Linked DNA regions of Homo sapiens. The protein of the gene in region 2 interacts with the protein of the main gene of each other region in a pairwise test. Each region holds a gene or a part of one and is shown on either strand. Other genes may lie near its edges.

Region 1 (3,500 bases), on a different chromosome or scaffold from region 2:
AATTACAATTTCCTTCCCTCCTCTGTAAGAAAGAAGCAATCTGTGGGCAATCATTTTATGACCATGGAAATGTCCTGTTCCTCATCAACCTGCCCTAGATTCAGCACCCCTTGATGATTCTTGTCTCTGCGCCAGCTGCAAACGACACTTCTCCAGCCCCATGCCCTCCACCCATAGTCTGGTCCTCAGCGCTCTGCCTGAGCAAGAACCCACCTCCTCTCCCGTCTATAGGTTTATTCATTTATCTATTTCTTATCCATATGGACTCACAGATTTCTATATTTTGCATCACTTATTTGGGTGTTCAAACTGTCATCTGGAAAGTTTTTCTTTTAATTGATGAGAGTGAATTACTTTCATTGTAAGAAGTAAAAACTTGTCAAAGAACTTTTACTAAATTTCTCTAGTAGTGATAAATCCTCAATTTAGATAGCCAGCTATTTTTAAATGTTCAGTGTTCTAAAAATTCTAACACATCTTGAACTTTGACCACCTTTTTTTATTTTCAGCTATTTGGTGATGTTTGCTTCCACTGCAATCGTGTTATAGAAGGTGATGGTAAGTATCTGTGTGAGTTTTAGATTGGTGCCACTTTGACACAAAAACACTTGGGTAATGTGGAAATTCAGGTTGGTGATTGTATGGTTTGAAATGTGATCGTTATCAGTTACTTTTTCTCTATCTTTGGCGTATTTTCCAAGTAATCTGTAGCAGTAAGATGATAATATCAAAGAGTTGGATTTGTTACTGATTTATGACACTACTTTCGGCCACTGCTGCAGTGTTGTATGCCAGCAATCATGGGAACTGTCCCTGGTGGACCCTAAGACCTGTTTGTGTCCAGTTTCAGGAAGCTCTAGAACAACGTTTATTAGGAACAGTTTAATCTGCTATCGTAGTTAGGAAGAGGCACTTTAACCTGCACATGCTAAAAGCTGGCAGTTATCAGCAAGCATATCTAGGACTTACCACCCTTGTACTGTGGTAATTAGGCTGGGCTGATTGATTGGAACAGAAAGGAAGCAGCTGTGTTTGCTAAGACTCGCTAACACACTTCTGCCAGAGACTTCCTGGCAAAGTTTTGAACAATCCTGTTTTCAGCATGATTCATGGCTCCCTGCAGACATCACCTAATTCAGGAAATACTTTTGAAACACTGTTCATGTGCAGTTTGTGAAAACAATCCAGGAAAACAATCTTTAGTGCCATTGAAAATAAAACTTACCTCCCTCCTCTGTGAAATAGATGCCAGGTGAAAGAAGCTGCAAAGGAAACTGTCTTCTTATCATCAGCTCTGGAAAAAAGACTCCTACAGGGGCAAATAAGTTAATGTCTGGATTTTTGAAAATTATTTACCTAGTTCATATTTCCATGTTGGGCCAACAGCAGTAGGGACAGAAACAGCAAGCTCACCTAAACAACATGGTGCATGGACAGTTGCCACATGTGCCCAGGCCAAGGGGGCACAGTTGCTGGTGTAAGACATGGCACACATCATTTATAACTTCACAGGATACTTAAGGATGGGGGAAGATTAAAGTCAGCCCTCCGTATCCAGGGGCTGGATCCAAACATCCGTGGATTCAACCAACTATGGATCAAAAATATTTAGAGAAAAATAACAATATAACAGTACAAATAGTACAGTATAATGACTATTTACATATCATTTACATTGTACTAGGCATTATAATTAACCTAGAGATGATCTAAAGTATACGAGATAGGACCAGGCTCAGTGGCTCACGCCTGTGATCCCAACACTTTGGGAGGCCAAGGCGGGCAGATCAACTGAGGTCAAGAGTTCAAGAGCAGTCTGGCCAACATGGTGAAACCCCATCTCTACTAAAAATACAAAAACTTAGCTGGGTGTGGTGGTGCATGCCTATGATCCCAGCTACTCGGGAGGCTGAGACAGGAGAATCACCTGAACCCGGGAGGCAGAGGTTGCTGTGAGCCAAGATCACACCATTGCACTCCAGCCTGGGCAACAAGAGCAAAAACTTCGTCTCAAAAAAAATAAATAAATGTATACAAGACAATGTACATAGGTTATATGCATTTTATATCAGGGACTTGAGCGTCTGAGATTTTGGTATCCTCACAGCATCCTAGAAACAGTATCCTGCACATACTGAGCAACAACTGTATACATAAAGGTTGAGGGCCGGGTGTGGTGGCTTATACCTGTAATCCCAGCACTTAAGGAGGCCGAGACAGGAGAATTTCTTGAGGCCAGGAGTTCGATACCAGCCTGGGCAACAGAGCAAGACCTCCATCTCTACAAAATAAAAAATTAGCCAGGTGTGGTAGCACACACCTATGGTCCCAGCTACACAGGAGAACGAGAGGAGAAGATTGCTTGAGCCCAGGAGTTCGAGCTGTGATCGCACCACTGCAATACAGCCTGGACAACAGAGCGAGACCCTGTCTGAAAAACAAAAGAAAAGAAGCTCTCAGGAAAGAGGTTCTTGGCTGGGCATGGTGGCTCATGCCTATAATCTCAGCATTTTGGGAGACCGAGGCAGGTAGATTGCTTGAGCCCAGGAGTTCAAGACCGTCCTGGGAAACATGGCAAGACCGTGTCTCTATAAAAAATACAAAAATTAGACAGGTATAGGCCGGGCGCAGTGGCTCACGCTTGTAATCCCAGCACTCTGGGAGGCCAAGACGGGCGGATCACAAGGTCAAGAGATTGAGACCATCTTGGCCAACATGGTGAAATCCCGTCTCTATTAAATACAAAAATTAGCTGGGCATGGTGGCACGCACCTGTAGTCCCAGCTACTTGGGAAAATGAGGCAGGAGAATCGCTTGAACCCAGGAGGCGGAGGTTGCAGTGAGCCGTGATTGCGCCACTGCACTCCAGCCTGGCAACAGAGCGAGATTCCGTCTCAAAAAAAAAAAAAAAAAAAAAATTAGCCAGGTGTAGTGGCATGCACCTGTAGTCCCAGCTACTCAGGAGGCTGAGGTGGGAGGATCACTTGAGCCTGGGAGGTTGGGGTTACAGTGAGCCAAGATTGTGCCACTGTACTCCAGCCTGGGCTATAGAGCAAGACCCTGTCTCATTTAAAAAAAAAAAAAAAAAAAAAAAAGGTTCTTGAGAACCTCCACCAAGTGCCACAGACACAGTCGTAGTTCTGTTTTGGAGTTGAAATTCTAAGCTGCCCTGCTCCCCATACTGATGTATTTCCATGTGACCAGATCTCTTTCCTCTTTCTCCAGTGGTCTCTGCTCTTAATAAGGCCTGGTGCGTGAACTGCTTTGCCTGTTCTACCTGCAACACTAAATTAACACTCAAGTAAGTGTACGGTTTTGTCCAGTGTGAATCCTAAGACTGAAAACTTTGGGGAGACACTTAAAAAAAATCCTAGAATTTAGAAAAAGAGAATTATTTGATTTCTTATTTCCTCTTTCTGTTCAGGCCTTCTGAAAGTAAAGGTTCTTCCTTTAACTGTTCCCTGTTCTTTCTTCTATTCCTTCTTTGTCCTACTCAAAGG
Region 2 (4,275 bases):
AGAGATTTATTAACGAATCGCTTCTGCTTGGTGGTATGCGGTCTGGGAGTTCAGGCTAAGAGTTAATGAGAGGTGGGTAACAGTCAGAGGGTCTCAGTCAGACCATTCAACCGCAACTGCAAACCCCCATTAGTAATCAACTTTCCCACCACAAATCACGATTCATTTTTGCTCGGTGGCAAGTCTCTTAGGGAGGCAGGGGAAAAGGATTCTACTAACATTCCTGGTAATCTACCTGATTATTTCCCTTTCAATTAAAAATAATAATTTATACCTTTATTTCCTTCTCTTTGCGTAATGAGGATTTTCCAGAGATTCAAAATATTATTTTTCCCTTCGTGTTGAAAAGCAACCTCTTTCCCATAGAGAGGAAACCGAAATTATTATTTGGGTGTATTCCCAGACTAGATTTCTTAGAAATAAATACAGGAGGCAAAGCACAACTCCCACCACAGGGTGTATGCGTTGGGGAGGGGGGAGCGGGCATGTGGGGGAGTGGTGTTGGCTAAAGTACTGTTGTGACCTGTGATTTCTATACCAAAGGCACAGCGAACTCTGCCATAAAGGTTACACTGCCACAAAGTTGAGTGCCATCTTCTTTCCCTTTTCTCTGAATGGTTTATAATACAGAAATTAACGACTAATATAATTCAGGTTCATGTTAGTAAAAAAAAAAAGTGCTATTTCATAGTACCTGTTTGTTTTAATTTGTAGGGCAGATAGTTTCTTCATAGAGGAAGAGCAAACCATTGGTCCTTTTGAAACCCTTTTACAAACAGAACAACCTTAAATATCCACCAATGGCTCTTGCCACAAATAATTAGGAAGGTTAAATTTCCACACTCCCATTGAGTTGCTGGAAATGTATGTCAAAAGAAGTATTTTAAGTGAATGCAGAGATCCTAAAGTACTTTCGTTTTGTCTAGAGCTGAGCCTTGTAGTTCCCACACTCCCTTTCAGGAAATAACAGCGATCATCATCTGCTGTCATTTCTCCACCGTCCCGTTTCAGACCACTGGTTACTTTTAATCTTGCAAGGAAAGAAACTTAAACCAATGAAAAGTCATAAATATGTTGGTGGAGCTGAGGCTACTTTTCTTTCATCAGTCTTCTTCACAGGAATTTCCAGGCATGTGGAGAAATTTTGTAAAATTTACTTGACTGGCTGTCACCAAGGAAGATGTGTACACACTTATTTCAGTTCAGTGAAGCTTTCAAAACATTGGAGAAAAAAATTAAGAAGTAACTTGATAAGGAGTTTCGCTCTTTGGTAATGGTAATATTACACTGAATTATCTAAAAATAATATACAGTCAGGGTTCATCTGCTAAAACCTGTGCACTGGTATATGAGATAAATGACTGATGGTCGGATAGGTAGGCTCACTGAATTTCAGCCCAAACCACAGCAGAATTTTATATAAATTAGAGAGCTATAGACTAAGTAGATCAAAGAAGATCATTAAAAAGAAAAAAAATTGTTAAAGGACAGATTGTTAGGGCCAGACTGTATCAGGTGAATAGAGAAACGGCTGCGAAGTTCCTGCCCCTTCAGAGCGCCTCTGCCTTCCCAAGGAGTTAATTAAATTAAGATGCCTTCCGCATAATCTAGGTTCTGTTTCTCTGTGCTCCCCTTGCTCCCCCTGCGTGAGTAATTTTCTTGTTCTGCCCAGGACTGCAGTTTGTTTAGCAGAGAAAGTGGCTGTCTGCGCCCTTTCGCTTCGGGAAACGCCAGCCCCCTTTTGTTCTCGGCTAACAGGTAGGAAGACAGATCCGGGGCTCCCTCCACAAACACCTTTTCCTCGCTCCTTCTTCGTACAACTGCAACTCCTTTCTCACTTGCCGTTTCTCAGGAATCCGAGCGTTTAAGCCCCCGGGGAGTTTGCTTTTGGGCCCCCTCAGTCAGGACTAGAAGGTGGGAGGAGAATTTTAAAGCCAGCACGAGGTTGACAAATTACCGAGGACTGAACTATTTCCCTCTTGAAATGTGCCTTCAGCGTCGCTGGCTGGGCAGGCACCGGGTGTCCGGGCCCGTCCACGCTGCGCTGCCGCGGCTGCCCCGGGACAAGTCGACCCAGGCTTGCTAGGGCAGGAGCAGAAACACCATGGGATTGTGGGGTTTGATCTCAGTGTACGTAGACCAGCTTTTATAAGAAGTCTTGCTGACCGCTTAGATTAAATATCCCAAAACAAAATTAAGAAACAGTATGTAGAAATGTGTGTGGTTGGGTGTTAGCTGGGAGTCGCGTGCCAGGGACCCAAGGAAGTGAGAAATACAGTGCCCTGGGATTGCATCCCCATGATCTATTTTCACATCTGAATTTGGGGCACACCAGACCGAGAATCTGAACGCCTCTTACACCCCCAAACCCTTCCTTCCAAAGGGCAGCTACAGCCCCTTCCCAGAGCGAACACTCACCTCCCGCAGAAAGGTCAACCTGGGCAGCCGCGCTCAGACCCGGTCCAGGCAGCGAGGCGCACAGCTTGGAAAGGTCATTGAGTCCACGCCTGGCAAACTTTTTTTTCCGCGCGGAGTCGCAGGAGTCGCGGACATGATCTGGAGGACCGCGAGCAGCTAAAGCGAGAGCAGATCCACGTCTTCGTCAGAGTCTGTGGACGCGGACTGTGTAAAGACCCGGGGTGCTTGGGGCCGGCGTTCAGCGCTCGCCCAGAACCTCGCTCTTCGGCGAACCTCTCGCTGTCGACTCCCGGTGAGGTCGGAGCCCACAGCCTTGCAGGGCCATCACCCTCCAGCAGCAAGCACGCCGAGCTCCGTCCCCGCCCGCGTCCCTCCCCAGGCTGCCCCAGGCCGGGAGTCTTGGGCTTTAGTAGCGGCCCCGCCTCCCCTTCGGGCGGGCGTCCCGCCGCCGCGCGGGGCCCTCAGCGCCCTGGCTCCGCCTCCGCGCCCGGCGTCTGCTAATGGTCCACTCTGTTTACTTCTGTTTGGATAGCAACTGAGTCTTAAAGGCACAGGTTTGCTCGAGGTTTCCCTGTTATAGAGACGCAGCCGTAGGTGACTCAGTTCAAAACTCACACACAAACACAATACCCACCCCCTTTCTTCTCGTTGCCACTTTTCCTTATACCATTAGAAACTCAACAACTGCTTCTCTGCCTCTCAAAGACTCCACAGAGAATCCCAAAGGGCATTTAGTATTTTTATTTGGTTCGCTCGCCGGCTTAATTTGCACATCTTAACACATTCAATACAACTACCTTCACCGTAAAGTAAAATAATTCAGGTCTAGACTGCATTCTCCAGCATAAATCACTCTTTCCCCAATTTTAAACAGTTTTGTACATACTTTTGGTCAATTATGACTACATGTGTAGTCTGCTTTCGCCTGCTGTTTTCTAAACGAAGTTTGTTTACAGAGGTGGCAATTGACTAATTTAGTAATTATTGCAAAGACGCGTGGAATGCCCCAGGAGAAATTTCTTCCAATATTTAAGCTTTAATCGGCAAATGTTCATTTCATACGCAGTAAACCAACTTGGTTAAAACAGTGGGCATCTGCAACCCATTGGCAAAGAATAAAGAATCCATCTGGAATTGGTGAAGAACAATCATTTTTAAAATTTAGGAAAATGCGATTCTAGTTTTTCAAAACATTTACATCTTCATTCCCAGCAAAAATTGAGTTCAATGTTCAGTCTCCAGGAAAGTTAATAGAATTCAAAGTGCAGTGATACATTTTTCAGGTCCTTCTAAAGGTTTGGTCTTGTGTGAGTGTAACTGCAAAAAGCACTTCAACCTCTCTGGAATAGGGGTGACCGAGTGACAGGAAGGGAATGATACACACCCATTTTAAGCAGCTTCTTTTCAGATGTGATTTGCGTGATCAACACTAAGCAAAAACGCCCTTCGTCCCAGACGAGTTGCCAGAGGGGATCTGTGTTACTCCACGGCAAGCCCGCACTTTGAGGACGTAGATCTTCAACCAAGAGGCTGTACAATTCAAAAGTGTTCCGTCGAAAGATGGTTTTGAATGAGACGCCCCAAAGGACAATTCAAAAAATCTCAATCGTGCGGGGAAGTAGATAAATACAAGCAGAGGCTAAAAACTGTCAAAAGGTTAAGCAGTAATTGGGGAGTCAAGCAGAAGCTCCCAGATATTATTTTATTAAGATAAAATTCTTTCTATTTTATTTATGCCGAGGTGGAGAGAATTTTTCGTTCCTTTGGTAAAACATAACAGGGGTCGCAGATTTTTTTTCTGTCTTTCCAATTTTAAGTTCGCAAAGATTAAAAAGTGAGCTTGAAACGGAGATTCGA

The links. The genes of interacting proteins can lie anywhere in the genome.
Region 1: the proteins of OSR2 (region 2) and LIMS1 interact in a two-hybrid assay, tested with the Homo sapiens proteins (one large-scale study listed by BioGRID and IntAct).

Annotation. Positions count from the first base shown.
Region 1 is NC_000002.12:108,677,470-108,680,969, forward strand, and holds part of LIMS1 (LIM and senescent cell antigen-like-containing domain protein 1), read left to right. Parts: exon of another isoform or gene 1-22; intron 23-509; coding exon 510-558; intron 559-969; exon of another isoform or gene 970-1,132; intron 1,133-3,225; coding exon 3,226-3,301; intron 3,302-3,499; coding exon of another isoform or gene 3,500-3,500. UniProt on the Homo sapiens protein: Within the IPP (ILK-PINCH-PARVIN) complex, binds to F-actin, promoting F-actin bundling, a process required to generate force for actin cytoskeleton reorganization and subsequent dynamic cell adhesion events such as cell spreading and migration.
Region 2 is NC_000008.11:98,942,967-98,947,241, reverse strand, and holds the start of OSR2 (protein odd-skipped-related 2), read right to left. Parts: upstream 2,801-4,275; 5' UTR 2,419-2,800; intron 1-2,418. UniProt on the Homo sapiens protein: May be involved in the development of the mandibular molar tooth germ at the bud stage.